Homo sapiens: one gene and its partners. The protein of the gene in region 2 purifies or fractionates together with the protein of the main gene of each other region. This does not show direct contact. Each region holds a gene or a part of one and is shown on either strand. Other genes may lie near its edges.

Region 1 (7,347 bases), on a different chromosome or scaffold from region 2:
GAACAACACTTTCAAAATGCTGAAAGAACAGACCTATCAACCCAAAATTCTATATCCAGCAAAAATATGTTTCATATATGAAGGTGAAATAAAAGTCATTCTCAGCTGAAGAGAAAGAAGAACTTATTTCCAGTAGACTTATTATAAAGAATACTCTTCAGTTAGAAGCAAAGTGTTATCAGAAGGAAACTTAGAACATCAGGAACAAAGGAAGACCAACTGAAATTGTAAATATCTGGGTAATTATTTTCCTCTTAGTTCTTTTAAATGTCTAATGTTTAAAAACAAGAATTATAACATTTATCTAATGAGATTTTTAATTTATGCAGGCAAATATATAACTACAAGAAAAAGGGAGGAGGCTAAAAAGGCCTATACATTGATCAGATTTCTACATTTCACTTGAAGTTGTAAAAATATCAATTTTAAGTAGACTTAAAAATTTACATATATTGTAATTCCTAATAAATCCCTAAAATAACTGCACAGAGATAATAGTCAAAACTACAATAGATTAATTGAAATGAATTAAAAAGTGTTCAATAACCCAAAAGACAGAGAAAAGGCAAAACAAAGGAATATCAAAGGAACAAAAAGAAAACAAATGATAAGATGGCAGAACTAAATCCAAACATGTTAATAATTTCACTAAATATAAATGTCCTCGACATTTATATTTAGATAAGATTAAGACAGATGATCAGAATTTTAAAAGAGGACCCAACTATGCATTGTTTATATAAAATTCACTTTAAATATGATATGGGTAGGTTAAAAGTAAAAGGACAGGCCGGGCATAGTGGCTCACACCTGTAATCCCAGCACCTTAAGAGGCCAAAATCGGAGGATTGCTTGAGCCCAGGAATTCAAGACCAGCCTGGGCAACATGGCAAAACCCTGTCTCTACAAAAAATTTAAAAATTAGCTGGGTGTGGTGGCACATGCCTGTAGTCCCAGCTACTCGGAACGGTGAGGGCGCAGTCAACCCTGGCTGTGCCACTGCACTCCTGCCTGGGTGACAAAGTGTGACCCTGCCTCCAAAAAAAAAGTTAAAAGGATGGAAAAGAGGATATACTGTACAAATATTAGTCAAAAGAAAACCAGAGGGCTAATAAGAACATGAAAACATGCTCAACATAACTAGCCATCACTGAAATGCAATTCAAAACCACAATGAGATATACCTACTAGGATGGCTATAATAGAAAAGATAGTAAGTGTTGGCTAGGATATAAAGAATGTGAAATGGTATAGCCACTTTGGAAAAGTCTGACAGTTCTTCAAAAGGTTAAACATGTGATCCAACAATTCCACTCCTAGGTACATACCAGGAAAATGAAAGTATGTCAATGCAAAAAACTGTACATGAATGTTCACAGCAATATTATTCAACTGATAAATGAGTAAATATGATGTGTTCATACAGTGGAATATCTGGCAAAAAAAAAAAAGTAGGGGGGAATGATGCCCTGAAACAGGCTACAACATGGATGAAAACTGAAAAAATTATGCTCAGTGAAAGAAGTCAGTCACAAAGACAATGTATCACGCCATTTATATAGTGTCCAAAAGAGGCAAATCCACAGAGGCTGAAAGTAGATTAGTGGATGTCTAGGACTGAGGGATTAGGAAAAGGAAGGAGGAATGGGAAGTGACTGTTAATGAACATACGGTTTCTTTTTGCGCGGGAAAAATGTTCTAAAATCAATTTTGTTGATGGTTACACAACTCTGAATATACTGAAAACCCTAAAAGTGTACACTTTAAATAGGTGAATAGTATGGTATGTGAATTACATATCTCAATAAAGGTGTTATATTTAAGAAAAGAGCTAGAGTGGCTATATAATATCAGACAAGGTCAGGCGCAGTGGCCCACGCCCATATAATCCCAGCACTTTGGGAGGCCAAGGCTGGCAGATCATGAAGCCAGGGGTTCCAGAACAGCCTGGGAAACATGGCCAAACCCCACCTCTACTAAAAATACAAAAAATTAACCGGGCGTGGTGGTACACACCTGCAGTCGCAGCTAGCTGGGAGGTGGAGGTAGGAGGATCACCTAAGCCCAGGAGGTTGAGGCTGCAGTGAGCCACAATCACGCCACTAAACTTTAGCCTGGGCAACAAAGTGAGACTTGCCTCAAAAAATAAATAAATATCAGACAAAGTAAACTTCAGAGAAAAGAAAATTACCAGGGACAGAGGAACATTACATGATGATAAAATGCCCAATCACCAAGAAGACATAAGCATCCTAAATGTATATACAACTATAATTAAAGAGCTTCAAAATACAAATGCACTAACTCAAACAACTGAAGGGATATATAGGCATATCCACCCTTACTGCTGAAAAATTAAACATTCCTTTCTCAGTAACTGGCAGACTTTGTACACAAAAATCAGCAATATAGGCAAAATGAACAGCATCCACTAACTGGCTTGAATTGATATTTATGAAATGCTACAACCAACAACAGCAGAGTACACATTCTTTTTAAGTGCTCAAGATATTCATGAGGATAGATCACATCCTGGATCACAAAACAAACCTTAACAAATTTAAGAGAACTGTAATCATACAAATTATGCTTTTTTTTTTTTTTTTTTGAGACGGAGTTTCACTCTTGTTGCCCAGGCTGGAGTGCGATGGCACATTCTCGGCTCACTGCAACCTCTGCCTCCTGGGTTCAAGCGGTTCTCCTGCCTCAGCCTCCCGAGTGGCTGGGATTACAGGCTCATGCCACCATGTCCGGCTAATTTTTGTATTTTTAGTAGAGATGCGGTTTCACCACGTTGGCCAGGCTGGTCCTGAACGCCTGACCTCAGGTGATCTGCCCGCCTAGGCCTCCCAAAGTGCTGGTATTACAGGCGTGAGCCACCACGCCTAGCCAGTACAAATTATGCTCTCTGATTATAATGAAATTAAACTAAAGTAAGTAATTAAGAGATAACAAGAAAAATCTCCAAACATCTGGAAGTTAAACAATGTACTTCTATATAATAAGTCAAAAAGGAAGTTTCTGGAAATTAGAAGATACTTTGATCTAAATAAACATGAAAATACAAAATATCAAAAATTTTGGCATGTATGTAAAACTCTACTTTGAAGCAAATTTATAGCATTAAATGTTTATATTAGAAAATTAGAAAGATCTCAAATCAATTATGTAAGCCTCAACCTTTAGGAACCTGGAGAAGAAGAGCAAAATAAACCTAAAGTAAATAGAAAGAAATAATAAAGAGTAGAAATCAACGAAATTGAGAACAAGAAAGCAACAGAGAAAACCTAATGAAATAAAAAGCCAGTCCTTGGAAAAAAATAAAAATTGAAAAACCTCCTGAAAAATTAACCAAGAAAAAAAGTCAGCAGACATAAATTACTAATGGAAAGAAGGGATATCAGGAAAGATGAGACATCACTACAGACCTCTAATTCCTTAAAAGGATAAGTGAACACAATAATAAATTCCATACACATGAATTGGATAATTTAAATGAAATGGACTAATTCCTCAAAAAACACAAACTACATAAAGTCACACAAGATGAAACAGACAACTATGAATAATCCTATTATAATTATTTTAAGAAACTGAATTTGTAATTAGAAATCTTCTGCAAAAAATCTCCAGACCTGGATGGCTTCAAGGACAAATTCTATCACACATTTAAAGAAGAAATAACACCAATTATTATACAATCTCTTAAAAAAATAATAGAAAAGGAAATACTTGTAATTTTAATCTCATAAACTGATGTCAGTATTACTGATACCAAAACCAAAGAGAATACAAGAAAACCACAGACTAATATCCTTCATTAACATAAATAAAAAATCCTTAAGGAAATATTAGTAACTCAAATTCAGCAACTCATAATGAGAGTAATATACCCTGACCAATGGGAGTTTATCCCAGATTCAAGGCTGTCTCCAATGTAATCCACTGAAGAAGAAAATCACTTATGCATACCAACTGGCATATTATTAAAAAATTCCGCATACTTTCATAATAAAAATTTTCTGCAAGCTAGAAGAGGATTTTTTTAAACTGAGAAAGGGCATTTTCAGAAAACTTACAGCAAACGTCATACTTCATAATGAATGACTGACTGCTTTCCCAATAAAATTAGGAACAAGGGAAGGATGTCTGCAGTCACCAGTCCTGTTCAATACATTGGTGTAATAAGGCTAGGAAGGGGGGAAAAACCATACAGGCTGGAAAAGAAGAAATAAAACGGCCCCTTTTCACAACCAACATTGTTGTCTATGTAGAAAACCCCAAAGAATCCAAAAAAGAACTCCTAAAACTACTACATGATTTTAGCAATGTCACAGGATACAAGCATAAGAATCAACTGTTTTTCTATATACTGGCAACAAACAAATGGAAACCAAAACTTTTTTTTTTAAAACACACATTTACAATAGCAAAACAAAACAAAACAACAACAACAAAAAAACACAAAAAACAAACCCTGAGATTCCTGGGCACAAATTAAAACATATGCAAAATTTGTTTGCTGATAACTACAAAATGCTAATGAAAGAAACTAAAGAGGATCTAAAAGAATGGAGAAACATACTGTGTTCATGGACTGGAAGACTCAACATAGTAGGGAAGTTTTCTTTTTCTTTTTTTTGAGACAGAGTCTTAGTCTGTCGCCCAGGCTGCTGGAGTGCAGCGGTACGATCTTGGCTCACTGGAACCTCCGCCTCCTGGGTTCAAGCGATTCTCTTGCCTCAGCCTCCAGAGTAGCTGAGATTACAAGCGTGCGCCACCACGCCCAGCTAATTTTTGTATTTTTAGTAGAGATGGGGTTTCGTCATGTTGGCCAGGATGGACTCGAACTCCTGACCTCAAGTGATCCTCCTGCCTTGACTTCCCAAAGTGCTGGGATTACAGGTGTGAGCCACTGCACCCAGCCGAAATGTCAAGTTTTCTGTAACTGTTGTACAAACAGTGCAATTTCCAGTCAAAGTCCCAGCAAGATTTTTTTAGAGAAATTGACAAGCTAATTCTAAAATTAGCTTGGAAATGCAAAGAAACTAGATAACAACAAAACAACTATGAAAACAAAAAAAGTTGAAGAAACTATTTGTTTTCAGTTTTTTTCACACTACCAAAGTTTAAGACTTACTATAAAGCTACTTCAATCAAGGTGGCATAGAGCTGATAGAAACAGAAAAGGTTTAGAGACAGGGCCATACAAAAATGGCCAATGGATTTTTGAAAAAGGTGCAAAGGCAAGTCAAAGGAGAAAGGTTGGCTTTTTTCAACAAATGGTGTTGGAAGAACTGGACATCTATATGCCAAAAGTTTAATCCCAACATAATTCCTACACTTAATACAAAAATTAACTCAAAATGGACCATAAGTCTAAATATAAAATTAAAAACAATAACACTTTCAGGAAAAAAATAAGAGAAAATCTTTGTGACCTGGGGTTAGGCAAAGGTTTTTGTAAACATGATACTAAAAGCATGATTCATAAAAGAAAAATTTGATAAACTGGACCTCATCAAAATCACAAACTTTTGCTCTGGGAAAGACACTGTTTAGAGAGTTTGAAAAGACAAGCTACAGGCTGGGAGAAAATATTTCAAATCACTTATCCAACTAAGGACTTGTATCTAGAATACAAAAAAGTCTCTCAAAACAATAAGAAAATAACCCAAATAAAAATGAATAAAAGACTTTACTAGTGAACCAAAAAGATATGGACAAATAAGAAACATGAAAAGATGTTCAACATCATTAGCCATTAGAGAAATGCAATTAGAACCATCATGAAACCTGTCCTCTTAAAATGACTATCTATTTCTGCATCAATACCACATTGCCTCAAATGTAACAGCTGTAAAATAAACTCTCCCTATCTAATATGTATAAGTCACTGTTTTCTTCTTTAAAATTGCTTCACCTATTTGCCTTCTCTCTAACCTAATTCTATCCAAATGGATCTCTAGAGTACCCTAGAGGAAAATCAAACTGTTACGTAATAATTTTAATTAATTCAAACTGTTGGTAGCTTTCTGAATCTGAGCAATAACTAACTACCTTATACTGTCATTTGGGCAAGAGGACAAGTGTTATTCCCACTTTACCAATGAGAAAATAGACCCAGGAATTCCAAATCTAAAAAGCTGAGTGGCTCACGCCTGTAATCCCAGCACTTTGGGAGGCCAAGGCGGGTGGATCACGAGGTCAGGAGATCGAGACCAGCCTGACCAACATGGTGAAACCCTGTCTGTACTAAAAATGCAAAAACTAGCTGGGTGTGGTGGCGCACGCCTGTAATCCCAGCTACTCTGGAGGCTGAGGCAGGAGAACTGCTTGAGCCCGGAAGGTGGAGGATGCAGTGAGCCGAGATCGCACCATTGCACTCCAGCCTGGGCGACAGAGCAAGATTCCATCACAAACAAACAAACAAACCAACAAAGCTGAATGACAGCACCACAAAGCAAGGAAAGAGCCAAACTAGTACCAAAAATAGAATTTCTGATCCCCAGTCTAGTGTCCTATTCCTAAGCCACACTGGATTCCCAGGGTCCTGTTTGCTTTTTACCTGTATAGAAATAATCTCAATCTCATCAGGTGGAAAACGAAAAAAAGTAAGTTCTCTGACCCTACCCAACACATGGAACATCCAAGATATTTTTTAAAATTTTCAAGCCAGCCATAGAAAAGAAATGGGAATGTATATGAAGACAGATTTTAAAGAATAAAAAAATTTCAAATATTTTCCAGACATAACAGCCTAGCAACCATTTTAATTAGGTGTCACAGTTAATTACAAGATCAATGAATGTTTACTGATTGGCTTTTTAAAGTTGTAATTAATATCCACTTTATGAAAAACACTCTCTCCTCTCCAGATTGCATAATGAAATACTACTATCAAAATCAACTACATTTAAAATTTGTTAACTATAAAAACCTACCTATTCAGGGAAAGGAATTATAAGCAGCAGGTAGCTCAAAGCATAATTTTTTTTAGCATTTCAGAAACACAGTGACAACAGTTTCTAAGAATTTGCATGTTCATTTCCTGTACGTGAAACCACACACACAAAAGTTTAAAATATTTTATAATATGCATTTACTTTATCACCTTTTTTGAAGACCATTGTGCTTCCCCTCTTTTTTGGCCAGGAAGTGGAGTGGGAGGAAGAAGACTGTTTTCCAAACTCTCTAACAAGTTTCAAATTTTAAAAAACAGACTACAGTAAAAAAGGAATATTCTAAACTTTTCGGCCTATTTTTATAGTGCCTACCTTAACTGGCCATAATACACTTACTTACATTATTTTCTATAGGCGGGTCCAAATTACAGGTGAATCTCTT
Region 2 (7,694 bases):
GGTGTGATGGACATAAACCCACTATTGTTTAATAAAATGCTGTCATAGGACTATTCTGTGAGAAAAATTACAATTTCAACAAATAAAACATGTCAAATCTCTAAATATGCAAGCTTCTCCAAATCCACAATGGAGTTATTTAAAATGGAATATAATGGAGCAAATTACATAGTGATCAGACAGAAGTTTATATAGTCTTACTTTGTAGTGTATTTCAATATTCTGCTAAAGAGGAATAAAATGTGTTTCCGGGGCTAGTCATCAAAATGAGCGTATGTTTCATATACAATAACAGTGGCTAGATTCTACAAGTCAAAAGAGTGGGTCTGAAACATGTTGCCTCATGCACCTAGGGAGACAAAAACACAGGGGAGAAGAAGGGAGGGTTTTGCTGGACAAAAAAAGAAAGACCTGCTGATAAATACTGGAAATCTCTATTTTAAAAGGGGGTGGGGGGAGGCGCAACTCCTCAGGTGACTGCTGATGAGTCAGGTTTGAAAACTTGGAGCTAAGGTTTAATGCCTTATTGGAACAGAGCTCTCTGTCAACCAAGGCCATTTATTCCTAAGCCTCTGTTTGGACACGAGGCAAAAGACTGTTAAATGCCTACCAAATTGTAGAAAAAATGTTCTCTAGAAACAATCTGCAGCAATGTATGTCAAATATTATGTTATCCATATGTACACAGAAAAGTATTTTCATTTATGGCACCAAGGTGTGCACATAGAGAAGCTAAATTATATTAGTAACTACCAGAGAGTTTGTTTCCTACGAGAGAAAATACCAGGACAAAAAAACCACTATAGACAATTAACCAGATAAAGAACTGAGAAAAAACTTGAGGGTAAAATAAATATCGCATAACTAATGAATGCGGCTTGGTGCAGATGAATTCTGTGATAAGAGGCAGATAGTATGAGTAGAAGGAGAAGGAACTTAGCAATTTGCACCAACCTAATAGCGCAGCTTTGCGAAACATTACACTGAAAGGCAAAGGCTTCAGATGAAACGTAAACATACATCTTATCAAAAAACTGCAATAGAAAAGTAGAGTTTCTAATCATGCCACCCAAATTTGCATGATACGCATTTATGCAAATGCACTAATGAAAGGGAATCCCTGTGCTTTATGTTGAGTTTGGTTTAGACTGGAAAACTCTGAAAAAATCTATTCTGAACCCTTCATGAAAACTCCTAACTTAAAACAAATAAACCTTGCTGAATTTTAGCCTAAGAATATGCAAATGCAGATTACAAACAGTAAATAAATGCCTGGCTTTTTTATTTTGGTCTGTTAAATCACGAGTCTCCACTAGTTTTCCATTAGTTGAGATGTATTGGACTTCAAAAAAAATACAAATTAATTTTATAACATATTTGCATAGCTCAAATGTACTCAGGCACACACATTCATTGATCAAAAGGCCTTTTGAAATATTTGCTGGATCATTTTTCCTTATCAACTCCATTGAGAAAAGGGAGGAAAATCCTCATTTCACAATGTTATTATAGCATGTACTGTTGAATGTATGCTAGGTTCTGTGCTAGGCACTTCATGTACATCATTTCTTTCAATTCTCACAAGTCATTACCCTCATTTTCAGAGGCACAAACTAAAATGACAGAAGTTAAGCAACTTATATCCAAGGTTACATAGCTAAATGTTGGAACACAGATTCAAATCTAGGTCTGCTAATATATTCAAAATTGCCTGAATATTTATTAGCTGTCAGGATTCTTTTTTACTTGTACTTTGATACAATCTATAGCATCACCTATAGTACTTGGTGTAATATGTATATGACATATGCTTATTGAAAAATGTTGCTAAAATGAATAAAGGGGATAACTACCTTAGATATAAGAAAGTAAAATATTGGAGAAACGCCTGAAGAAGAAATCATTTTCTATTTTAGTGCAATTTTATCCACTAATTTGTCAATTAATAATGGTAAGAACATACATGAAAATGTACCAATATATGACAGTGATACAAATAATTATACTTTAGCCTATCTATGCTATTCATATGTGGTTGAATTTTAGTCTCAGAAATAACATACATATCAACAAACTTGCCAGGGCAAATTATCCCTCCTCAAATGGTTAGGAAGTAAATTTTCATTGCCACCATTACTCTTAATTCAATTGTGCTAAATTAGTACACTCTAGAAAACAGAACTGAAGTATTATTACTCCCTCATAAAGAAAACAACACCCTAAAGAAAGCCTCTGTCAATGACTATAGACAAGACTCTTAAGCTCAATTTCCTTATGACTAAAATGTGCTGCTAATAATGTGGTTTTCAAACCGCAGCTCCCTAGAGTCACAGACGGTTTAGCAGAGATGTCTCAGGGACTCTGTAGGGGGAAAGAGGATGTCAAAGTGACAGGATGAGAGCTCTGGGCCTACATTTCTATGCCAGTTTCAACCACAATACTGTTATCTCTCTCACGTACTGGCATTCTATGTTAAAATATCCTTTTTCACATTTCTTTCAAATGGCAGAAACTCTATTTTTCAATCTCCAGATTACATCAACATTGGAAGTCTGTGATTGGGAAACAGCAGTGAACACCTGGCATTAGATTGCCTGGGTTCAAATCCAGCTCTACCACTTAATAGGTAAGTTCTGTGGCCTTACCTAATTTTCTGTGCCTGCTTCAATTTCCTCACTTGTTACTGGGTTGTTGTGATAAGTAAATAAATGTAAAGTGATTAAAATAGTGCTTAGCATATAATAAGTCCTATATAAATGATTGTTATTAAGATGACATTGATTATATAAACCTACTTCGATGATCTGAAGCAAAATCTGCTGCAAATATTATTTTAAATGTCAAATCTTCATAGAAATGTGTCATGGCTCATCAACAAGTACACGATTATCAAAGCAAATGAAAACTTACCAAATTATTTCAAAACTTTAGAAATAAATAGTCTAAACAACTAAGTTTGGGATCACTGACAATTTATCCTTTTACAGGCCAAACATGTTTACTTTAACTATACAGGGCGAGTATCCCTTAAACAAAATGCTTGAGACCAGAAGTCTTTAGACCTGGGGATGAGGCCCAAGTATAAACATGAAATTCATTTATGTTTCATAAAGTGCATCCATATATGCATACATTTTGTGCATACAACAAAGTTTTGATTGTGTTTTGACTACAACCCATCCATCACATGAGGTCAGACGTGGAATTTTCCACTTATGGTGTCATGTCACGGTGCTCAAAAAGTTTTGGATTTTGGAGCATTTAGAATTTGATATTCAAATTAGGGATGCTCAACTTGTACCAGATTAAAAATAAAACTCCATGAACAGTTGATTATCTTCCTCCTTCACATATTAAAAGTAGAAAAGGAAGCTGGGGCTTTCCCATAGGAAAGGTAAAATACAAAACCCTTAGGCCAGGCGTGTTGGCTCACACCTGTAATCCCAGCACTTTGGGAGGCCAAGGCAGGCGGATCACAAGGTCAAGAGATCGAGACCATCCTGGCTAACACAGTGAAACCCCATCTCTACTAAAAATACAAAAAATTAGCCAGGCATGGTGGCGGGCGCCTGTAGTCCCAGCTACGCTGGAGGCTGAGGAAGGAGAGTGGCATGAACCCGGGAGGCAGAGTTTGCAGTGAGCCGAGATGGCGCCACTGCACTCCAGCCTGGGCGACAGAGCAAGACTCCGTCTCAAAAACAAAACAAACAAACAAAACAAACAAAAAAACCCTTAGTGTTTGTCCCTTGTGACACAGATTTTGGCTATTCAATTAAAAGCCTTTTTTATATTCCTGGCCCTTAATTATTGTCAAAGAGTAGGGTCATTCCTTGATAGCTGGGTTGCATACCTATCACGAACCATTATTTTCTATGGGACATATTCCTCTCTTTATGTGACTCAAAAGAGAGTATCCAAACTAGCTAGGTATCCAAACAAGCTAAAATAGCATTTCTCAATGTGAATGACAAAGAATACTATTTTCAAAAGATGAATGTTTTCTTTTTCTTTCATAATTGAGATTTCATCAGTTGTGTTGAGGATCAGTACACAGACATTTCAACTTGTACATAATTCTGAACATATGTACTGCAAAATCTAAAAAGCCACGTATCATTATTATTCTCTAAAGTTATTCCAGTGACTTTCCAGCTTACAACTGAGGCAAAATTACCTTAAAAGGCTATCAAGTACCAGTACCTTCAAATGTTGATAAGCTGTCACATACGTCCCACCAATTCACAATTTAATAGCATATACACTATATACTTTAATCTTTCACAGCACATTAACAAAGTTATTAGAAAAACAGGACTACCATGACCAAAGATGTTACAGAGTGCACACAATTCTGATAGGTAGAGCCAGGCTCAAGGAGTGGTTTGCCCAAGGAAACAATTCCACTAAAAAACAACATGAAGAGTAGAAGTAATTTAAGGCCAGGTGTGGTGGCTCACTCCTGTAATCCCAACACTTTGGGAGGCCAAGGCAGGAGGATCACTTGAGCTCAGAGGTTAGAGACCAGCTTGGGCAATGTAGGGAGATGTGGTTATCTACTAAAAATTAAAAAAAAAAAAAAGAAATTAGCTTGGTGTGGTGTTGTACACCAGTAGTCCTAGCTACTCTGGAGGCTGAGGTGGAAGGACTGCTTGAGCCCAGGAGGTTGAGGGTGCAGTAAGTTATGATCATGCCACTGCAGTCCAGCCTGGGTGACAGAGTGAAGTAATTAAAAATGTTCAAGACATGAAATGCAGGACTGCGACTCCACTTTGCCATTTAGTATGCTTTATATTATGGGATATAAAAACTAACCACCCATCTATGGAATGTTAAGCTGACACCCATAACAGTCAAGGCTTCCCATAATTCAATATCCAACATTATTTTCCCATTGTACCAAAAAATAACCAGCAAATTAAATTATTTCACCTCTTTAAAAAAAAAAGCATTTACACTTAAAAAATGGAATGCAGTGGAATTCCCTCCTTAAATGTTTCTAGAGCTATTAAAAAACATTAGAGCTACTAAAAAACATGCATTTACAACATAGTTGATAAAAATATTCTCCTGGATTATGTAAGAAGAGAGACGGGGAACCACTGATAAGACATGGTATGCGATATTAATCAGACTGGGCTTCTTTCTCTCCTGCTTCAGAGGCTGGACTCTCTTCAGTTTTAGTTTTTCTGTTTTCTGCAGGTAAATCTTTATTCTTAGCTACTTTGGCTTGTTTTCACTTTCCTACTCTTTTCTCTTTTGTTTGCACTTTTTTGCCTGAAGATTTATCTTTTCCTGCTACCTTTTGGGGCTTCAATTTCCACTACTGAAAGAGCAGGTTTAGCTGACAACCACATCAATCTCCTTTTGGGATCTTCCCTCACTGTCCCATCAGCTGAGCTGACCGTCCTCTTGGGCATCCTGGAAGTGGGGAAGGCGCATATCAGATGCATGTGGGCCATGGCATGCTGAGGGCCTTCACAAAGCTGGGCTGCCTGGCTGCTGCCACTCCTCCCACTGCCCAAACTCCAAAAGATGAATGTTACTATTTATTCCAAGTGAGTCTCCTTAGGTTCTTCAAAGTTACCACATATGTCACAGCCTCTTCCAGAAAAAGACCTGCGCTAAATCTTTTCTCCCCAGCAATATCTACCTATGGTTTCACCAAAACCATGCATTGATAGTGACACTGCAAGTATTCCCAGCTTTCTTTGTTTTTTATCCACTGAGGCTGAAGAAAATTATCAGACTTTCTAGTTTAAAGATACTTATGTAGGGATTATGTTTTCACTCAATCCCCTACCCTCTCACCCTTCACTGTACTCCAGAAGAGTGTCCCTGGTCTGAGAACTACTGCTCTAGGATGACCCTTCTTGCTGCTGCTCACCAGCCAGCCTTCTGGCCCCATGAGTATTCTTGGTCTTATTTAACCTATATCCCCCAAAGGCAAGGATTTAGAGGCTATTTGGTCAGTCTTAGAAAACACTACTCATGCCTAAGAGTACGTTACTTACCTTAATGACTGCTGCTATTTCTGAAATAAAAATTATTTTGGTATATCTTACTACCAATCTCTAGGATATATCCAGTTTCTCTATTCATTTATCTGACATTTATATCTTCCCATCATTTATGTAGTTCAAACTACATTCCAGTTTATGCACATTTCATTGTTGTTTTAAAATTAAACATTCTAAAAAATGCTGTACTCTGAAACCAAACGCCATAAAGTTAATAAAATGTGGTATTTAAAAATTTGAGATTTTATTTCAAATAAGCATTTCAAGTTAGTCATACCAAAATTAAAAAATGTAGATGAGTAGTTCCTCGGAAGTACTTTTAAGAAAAGAAGAAACAAAACAAATAATTGCTTACTTGATTGTCTGCAGAAACCTCACTCTGTCATTGATCTCATCTGGGATCTTACTGAGAATTTGTTTAAGTGCTCGTGCCTTTTCGTTTAGGTCTTGGAATTCTGGCTCTGGTCGTTCAATCATATACTCTGATAAAATAAATACATAATAAAAAACATCCTGCGACTCTCTGCCAAATTCATCACATCTAAGAATTTCCAATGTTGGTCAAAGGCAGGTGAGGGAGGTGAAAGGCCAGATAATTAGGAAAGACAAGGTTGCAAAGCAGAATTCATTAGCGTTTGACTTAGTCCAGTAACAACAGCAGGGCTCCCTTCAAGTAAAGTATCACAAAAAGAAAGAATAAATATTTTCAATTTGGGACAAAAGGACATCCCATGAAATCTTAAAAAAAAAAAACACACAAAAAAAAAACAGATTTAAAAGGGAGGCTTAAGTTCAACCGTACTCTGACATTACATTTCCCAAGGAAACCTTAAATTAAATAATGAGTGTCATAACTAGTGCAAAGGTAATATCTACTTGCCAACTGGAAAGATTAAAAATTTAAAACCCCTATATTTAATATACATTGCTTCATCATATTAAAACCCCAAATAATCTAATAAAATCTTCTACACATTTTTGAAATCTCACTTAAAAACAAAAACACCAGCACAAATCCAACACACAGGCTGGGATCACAGAACACCAATTTTGGAAAGGAGACTTCACTAGATTCATTGCAGACTTGGAAGCATTACAACTCTACCAATTCATCAATATATTATGGCCTAATGGGCTGCAAATGCTCAACTCTAAATAATGATAAGGGCTTTCTTAAAATCATGGAATCAGTTAAAATACCTGCTTTGTGTTCTTCCTTAATAATTCTGGGAAATTATATGTCCATATTTTTCTAAATTAGTGGGAAAACTGCTACTAAACTTAAGTAAAACCAACGTCTAAATAATTTCAAGTAAAAAAAATAAGAAAAGTAAAAAGGATGGTTATATTATTCTCTTAAATCTGTGCTTGAAACACAGATGCTGTACTAAAGTTAAAAAAACAACAAAACAAAAACCTCATTACTTTCAAACTGTTGTTTGCTTAAAGTCAACACATTCCAAATAAGCTTATCTTTTAGTAAAACTGAAACTCACCAAACATAAAGGGGGGAAAAATTGAAGTATGCAGCATAAACAAAGTTCAAGTAATTAAATCTCACAAATATAAAAAGCAAGAAAAACCATTTTTCTATTTTATCTACATTAGCTTCCACTATCACTATCACCACCACCACCATCATCATCATAAGTGAAAGGGAGGGAGGGAAAACAGTAG
Region 3 (7,347 bases), about 110 Mb from region 2:
TTTATATCTGAAAAACAGAGAGTTCTTGCATACTTGTGCAATTCTTTTTCTTGCCGTTGCAGTTCTGATGATAGCAAAACATTTTCCCTTTTTAGAGAATGGCATTCGGTTTCCAATGCATTCCATTCCTTTCTCAACTTCTCTAGTTCACCTAAAATAGTCCCAAAACATATTTGTTAATACAGAAATATAACTTCCATAATACTTCAAAGGATAAAGGAAAAGATTTCAGAGGAGAACATACTTTTTGCCCCCTTAAAAGCAAGTAGATTTTACATGGTTAATTATATGATTCCTGTTACTTTGCATGTATACCTCAAGGACTGCTATCAGCTTGTACTTGAACAATAGTATTTTTTTCCACTTCACTTTTATAAGACAAGCAATTTTTAACAATTTTAAAATAAAATATAAAACCGTAAAAAAATATAAATTTAAGTAGAACTTGCAGACCTGAAAATACATTTTTAGCTCCGATTTAAAAACATTGGTTTATACAACTGATAGCTAACAAAGAAAAAAAAAGCCTGCATGTTTCTTTTTTAAACAAGTTAAGAAGTTATCATTGTCAAAAGTTAACAGCTTTATGTAAAATACATTTATTCACCTTGCAACCTTGTTGCTTCTTCTCTCTGCTGGTCCTCACACTGTTGACATCTAAGCTGAAAACTGTTTTGCAGACTTGTGATTTCTTTCTCATATTCAGACGCTGCTTTCCGCCACCGCTCAAGCTCAGCTCTCACCTTCTTAAGCTCTTCTTGTAAAGAAGCAATGTCAGTGTCCCGCTCAGAGGCAACCTTTGCTGCTGCTTGATGAAGGAGCAAAATTTCATCTCGGGCACTAAGCAATTCATCTCTAGTACTTGTGATTTCACTGTCCTTCTCCTCCCGGAGATTCTCAGTATCGATGTGTAACCTCTGCAATTGGGCTGCAAAAGTATATCCATCATTTTCTTGGCCCATTAGAATAAAAGAATAATCCATACAGGATTGTAGCTAATGCATAACCTGGGTTGTCAGAGCTGTTGCTTTTGATTAAAGTGTATAAACAATCCACGTTTGATGCAGAAAGCGTCAAAATACAGATAGCAAAGAGGAAAAAAAAACCAAAGTGATCTTCATCTCCCCAACACACAGAAAATTACTTCTGATATTCCTTCTGGATTTTTTCCTATGCATTTATAAACATGTAAAAACAAACATTAAATAGGGAGTGATCACAATAAATGCAGTGTTCCCTATCCTTCTGTTGATGAAACTCTTTCAACAAAAAAATAGTTATAGTATATATAACTTATTTGCCCAACCCTTTATTTTTGACATTTTAGGCTGTTCAGTGTTTAAACACTATATACAATCCTTTTTTTTTTTTTTTTTTTTTTTTTTAGGGTGAATCCTATGTGTAGAATTGCTTGGTCAAATGGTAAGCAATAAAAGCAATAAACAGTTGACGCCCTTGATTCGTTTTTCTGTTCAAATGTCAATTCTTTAAAGAGGCCTTTTCTGATGACTCATGTGAAAAACAGCTCACTGTCATTCTCTGGCTCTTTACTCTGCTTTATTTTCCTTTGAAGTCCTTATTGGACATCATATTATCTATTAATTTGCTTATTGTTTATCTTTTCTACTGGACTGTACACCTCATGTGTGTAGGGCATTTGTTTTGCTCACAGCTGTCAGGTATTGGGGATACCCCAATATCTAACACAGTAAACAATCAAGAATTATTGGTTGAATTAATGAGTTAATAAAATTAATACTGCCTCATTGAAGGGTTATATAGATTTTTAAAAATACCTGGTTTTGTGCTCATGACCCAAACTGGAAACAATTTGTATAAAATCAAACTTGGCGCAGAACAAGAAAATTAATATTGGTTACCATATTATAAGGAAATTGTAGATTTAAAAAGTTCCAAAGGAAAATAATTAATTACAAGAGGATTTAGGGATGGGAGAAAGGGAGGTTGCTACATAAGTAAACATTAAGATATTAGACTTTCTAAGTTTGTAGGAAGGACTGAGAGGTAACAAGTTTGGAATCTGAAAGGGCACAATGGCCAGAGAAGATGATCATGATTTGTTGATACAGTCGTGAAATACACATGCTGGCACCAGGGGGCACTCAATAATGCCTGGGCAAGACAGGTTTTAAAAAAAAGGTAGCACTATGTCACAGAACCTTTAGGAAAAATTGCCCCTACACAGTCTACGATGAAAATAGAGATCCAAATCAGATTTATGTAAATTAATGGATAATGACATTAAACTACAATAGGAGTTTTAAGAGCTTTCAATTTAAAAACACATATGACATACCCTAGAAATTCTAATCTGACCAAAATAAAATTCTAATTTTAAATAACTCAAATGTTCCACTCAAAAAATAGGACCCCAAAGACTAGTTTTTCTCTGCGATATTTTTGGGCAAGTATCTTGGGCCTCGTACAATGACTCTCCCTTCTCTTCTGAATAGTGATTACTTGTCTATTTAATTTCTTCCCCACCTATCTCTCAAGCTAAAATTTTAAAACAACATTGGCTCCTTCTTTGACAAGAAGGCAAATTAATTTTACTTTAGGAATTTTACAATGGCATGGGAAAGGAAGACCTCTCCTGGGGTATCATATAATTTCCTCATAATATACCAGGAGCTCAAGCTTGAAGTAAACATTCGACAGGCAGGGGTCTTTCTGGAAATTTCTGTAATAACCCTGTAATAGCCCAGACAAAGAAATAGCAAAATGGTGATAAGAAGAACAGCCATTATCAACGAAAATCAGTGCAGAGACTACTATCCTATTCCACGTGATATATAATTTTTCTTGAGGCCAGGTGCAGTGGCTCATGCCTGTAATCTCTGCACTTTGGGAGGCCAAGGTGGGTGGATCACGAGGTCAGGAGTTTGAGACCAGCCTGGCCAATATAGTGAAACCCCATCTCTGCTAAAAATACAAAAATTAGCTGGGCATGGTGGCATGCACCTGTAGTCCCAGCTACTTGGGAGGCTCCAGAATCACTTGAACTCGGGAGACGGAGGTTGTAGTGAGCCAAGATCACCACTGCACTCCAGCCTGGGCAACAGAGCAAGACTATGTCTCAAAAAAACAAGCAAAAAAATATTTTCTTGCAATACAAGTGTGTTCTGAGCATTAGATGGCAATATATCTACACCAGCCATCAATATATACATATACCAGCAAGCTCAAAGTGCTGACGCAGAGTAGCTCAAACAGATTTCCTATCCAAAGGCCCTCTGTAGGAACTCACGACATAACTCAGAAAGTGACAGTCTTACCAACTCCAAATCTTCACCTCTGCTTTTTCCATTCTAAGTGTCTAATACGAGAGTACTGGACAATCTTCCCTTGAATTTTCTTTAAAAAAAAAAAAAAAATAGGCCAGGCGCAGTGGCTCACACCTGTAATCCCAGCACTTTGGGAGGCCAAGATTGGTGGATCACCTGAGGTTGGGAGTTTGAGATCAGCCTGACCAACATGGAGAAACCCCATCTCTACTAAAAATACAAAATTAGCTGGGTGTGGTGGCGCATGCCTGTAATCCCAGCTACTCAGGAGGCTGAGGCAGGAGAATTGCTTGAACCTGGGAGGCGGAGGTTGCAGTAAGGTGAGACCGCGCCATTGTACTCCAGCCTGGGCAACAAGAGCGAAACTCTGTCTCAAAAACAAATAAATAAATAAAGCTCCACCAAGAGCCGTGTTGAAATGTGAGGTTCTAGAGAATCAAAGCCATGAAAAATGGGGACTCTCTGCCTTCTTACTTTCCATTTCATTTTTTTTTTTTTTTCTGAGATGGAGTCTTGCTCTGTCACCCAGGCTGGAGTGCAGTGGTGCAATCCCAGCTCACTGAAACCTCCACCTCCCAGGTTCAAGCAATTCTCCTGCCTCAGCCTCCCGAGAAGCTGGGATTACAGGCATGCACCACCATGCCCAGCTAATTTTTGTATTTTTAGTGGAGACAGGGGTTCACCATGTTGGCCACACTGCTCTCGAATTCCTGACCTCAGGAGATCCACCCTTCTCGGCCTCCCAAATGCTGGGATTGCAGGCATGAGCCACTGCGCCTGGCCTCCATTCCTTTTGAATCACTAAAAACAAACACACAATAACAATCTCAAAGAGCCTTGGGGTCTTCCATACCTTGAAGAACCTGTATTTGTTTAGTGGATTCCTCAACTTGATTTCGATAGGCTTTTCTTTCTTCTTCCAAAAGAGCTAAAAGTAAAAACACAGTATCTATTAATAGTTTTGTGAATTAATGAAAGTACTCAGAGTTGAGCAGCTGAAAATTTCTTTTAAAATTCTCTCCTAAAAGATTATTGAAAGAAACAAAAGTTAGGCAGTAAGTATTATCAGTATTAGCAGTTAGTTTAAAGATTTTAGGAGCACAGAACTGTAGTAAGTAATAAATCTATTCAACTGAGTAGTGGAGTTTTCTGGACCTGGTATCACCAAGACAATATGTGCTTTTCTTAACATGAGAAACAGTCTTGATAATTGTTAATCAGCATTTTGAACTTAATTTTTTAAAAAGACTTAAAATTCTTATATTTACTGTCAAGCACATAGTAAACACTAAACTAAATAATTGCTATTTACCAAATATTTTTTCATTGTAATTTAATATATTAGCCTGGATCCTCCAAAAGGTTCAAGTTAAGTGAATACCAATTCTAATTTCTTTGAGAATTAGGAAAGGAAAGAAGTAGTAACAAGAAGTTCCTAGTTCCCTCCTGGGATGTAAATCTTCCTACTAGGCAGGAAGGCCATCTTGGAGAACATGAGGGCTCCAGAAGTCATTCCCTTTCTCATTTTAAGACTCTTTGAGATACTAATTGTCTGCAACCAGGTAGTTACTATGAATGATACAGAAATGTAAGCTCTAGGGAACTGCACAGACTCCACTGGCTTATGACCTATAGATAAGTGAGCTACTAGAAAAGAATGTGGCCAGGACATTAGCTAACATTAGGCATAATAAAAATTTAGAAATTTGAGTTTTCCTTCTGTTGTACTTAATATGCAATTAACTATTAAGATCTTTCAGTTAGTAAAGATCTTACTTGATTTTCACATCAACAGTGTGAAGGTAGAGCAACTGTAACTCTCCTCATTTTACTGACCTGAAACACAAGTTTAGAGAGGTCAAGTAAATATACCAAGATCACATATCTCATAAAGTTGTGAATCTGGAACATGCCTCCGGACTCCAAGTTTGGGGCCACCCAATTATATTGTGCTGCCTCCACACATCCCTAAAGAACCAAAGTAATCTTGATCTCACCTTGAAGTTCAAAGCATTTTTGTTTACTTGTTCTAGCTAGCTCCTGGGCTTCGATCAATTCCTTTCGAAGATGCTGTATTTCTTGCTTTGCCTCAATTTCTGACTGTGCACCCTGCAAGTCATCTGACAAAAACATGTTTATTTTAAAAGCAAGAGTTAGTATCACACTATAATCTACAATAAAAGACTGGTAATCTCTCTCATGTTTGCACATGCATAAACAACATAGAACAACTGAGTTAAATAAAACTTAGAAGCAAATTATAGTAAGCATTTTAGTAGTTGGGAGAAAATACAAATACAGTTATATATATTAGTAATCATGGTGATGACATTATAAAAATATATTAACATAAATTATATATTCACAATTCTAGCATCAAAATAAACAGACAGTGACAGATTATAACTCATTGCTTATTAAGACTTGAAATTCAGTGAGATGAGCAAAATGCTATACTTCTTCATCAATTTTGAAATTTCTTGATAACCAGTCAGAAAAATTTCACTTGGAACTTAACTGGATATGGAAAACAAAAAGAAACTTTTCTTCAAGTAACAGCTAAATTTTAGCACAATTACCCTAGTTGTGGAACACAAAATAAAAACTAGGCTGAAAGCTCTACTGAGCCTACTTTGTCATCATCATTTCCCCAACACGCACATATAACAAATATCTGAGCTGGGCGTGGTGGCTCATGCCTGTAATCCCAGCACTTTGGGAGGCTGAGGCAGGCGGATCACGAGGTCAGGAGATCGAGACCATCCTGGCTAATACGGTGAAACCCCGTCTCTACTAAAAACACAAAAAATTAGCCAGGCGTGGTGGCAGGTGCCAGTAGTCCCAGCTACTTGGGAGGCTGAGGCAGGAGAACTGCTTGAACACAAGAGGCAGACGTTGCAGTGAGCCGAGATCGCGCCACTGCGCTCCAGCCTGGGCAACAGAGTGAGACTCTGTATCAAAAAGAAAAAAAAAAACCGCAACAACAACAAAAATCTGCTGAATATATTAAATGATGTAACCTAAGTGGTTTTACCGAAATAAATTAAATCCAGCATTCTATTTCAAATATGCCCCTTCCCCTAAACTCCTTCCTCTCCAATCATTCTGCTTTTTAATTTTTTAAAACCTTCTGCTACTGAACACTGCCTGAAATAAATATATCATCAGGTAAGCCATATTGTTCTAATGAATTCTATTTGAGTATCACCTTGGTTTATAAGTACCTCAGCATAATAACTTCAATTCATCAAAAAAGAGCTAAGAATAACTTTCACAATACAATTACAATAGGTTTTGGAAATTATATATATATATATATATATATATATTTTTTTTTCATATTCATAGATTATATCCTATTTTTCTCTCTAGAAAAATTGTATTCTGGCCTAGGCGCGGTGGTTCATGCCTGTAATCCTAGCACTCTGGGAGGCTGAGGCAGGCAGATCACTTGAGGTCAGGAGTTTGAGACCAGCCTGGGCAACATGTGGAAACCCCGTCTCTACTAAAAATACTAAAAATTAGCTGGGCGTGGTGGTGCGCGCCTGTAATCCCAGCTACTCAGGAGGCTGAGGCACGAGAATTGCTTGAACCTGGGAGGCAGAGGTGGCAATGAGCCAAGATCGCGCCACTGCACTCCAGCCTGGGCGACAGAGAGTGACTGTGTCTCTAAAAAAAAAAAAAAAAAAAAAAGAAAAAAAAAGAAAAAAATTTGATTCTGGGTTCAGCTACTCTAGTCAACTTATCAATTCTTCCTTCAAAAGGTCTTTGGGCCAGGGAAGGGGCATGTAGAGAGAGAGATTTTTCCAGTGGCAGAAACACTGTTGCATTAGCTACAAAACTTCTCTCACAGCTCTTTCAACACTATCCACTGGAGTCTGCAAAGGTCCTGGCCCCTGTTTCTGGATTTGTCATTATATAGGATAATGCTCTTTTTTTTTTTTTTTTTTTTTAAGGAGTATTTAGAAGAGAAGCATCATGATGCTTGCATCTTACATTCAAGTGGTTTGACAAAAACATCGACATTAATTCCTTGAGTAGG

What was found. The genes of interacting proteins can lie anywhere in the genome.
Region 1: the proteins of PDCD10 (region 2) and FGFR1OP2 purify together in Homo sapiens (affinity purification with mass spectrometry; 4 studies listed by BioGRID and IntAct, with this or other methods). This does not show direct contact.
Region 3: the proteins of PDCD10 (region 2) and SLMAP purify together in Homo sapiens (affinity purification with mass spectrometry; 4 studies listed by BioGRID and IntAct, with this or other methods). This does not show direct contact.

Annotation. Positions count from the first base shown.
Region 1 is NC_000012.12:26,941,123-26,948,469, reverse strand, and holds part of FGFR1OP2 (FGFR1 oncogene partner 2), read right to left. Parts: intron 1-7,347. UniProt on the Homo sapiens protein: May be involved in wound healing pathway.
Region 2 is NC_000003.12:167,689,224-167,696,917, forward strand, and holds part of PDCD10 (programmed cell death protein 10), read right to left. Parts: intron 6,500-7,694; coding exon 6,373-6,499; intron 1-6,372. UniProt on the Homo sapiens protein: Promotes cell proliferation. Modulates apoptotic pathways. Increases mitogen-activated protein kinase activity and STK26 activity. Important for cell migration, and for normal structure and assembly of the Golgi complex.
Region 3 is NC_000003.12:57,905,962-57,913,308, reverse strand, and holds part of SLMAP (sarcolemmal membrane-associated protein), read right to left. Parts: intron 7,343-7,347; exon of another isoform or gene 7,262-7,342; intron 5,426-7,261; coding exon 5,303-5,425; intron 4,255-5,302; coding exon of another isoform or gene 4,234-4,254; coding exon 4,159-4,233; intron 1,423-4,158; exon of another isoform or gene 1,388-1,422; intron 1,171-1,387; coding exon of another isoform or gene 1,118-1,170; exon of another isoform or gene 929-1,117; coding exon 608-928; intron 152-607; coding exon 34-151; coding exon of another isoform or gene 1-33. UniProt on the Homo sapiens protein: Associates with the striatin-interacting phosphatase and kinase (STRIPAK) core complex, forming the extended (SIKE1:SLMAP)STRIPAK complex.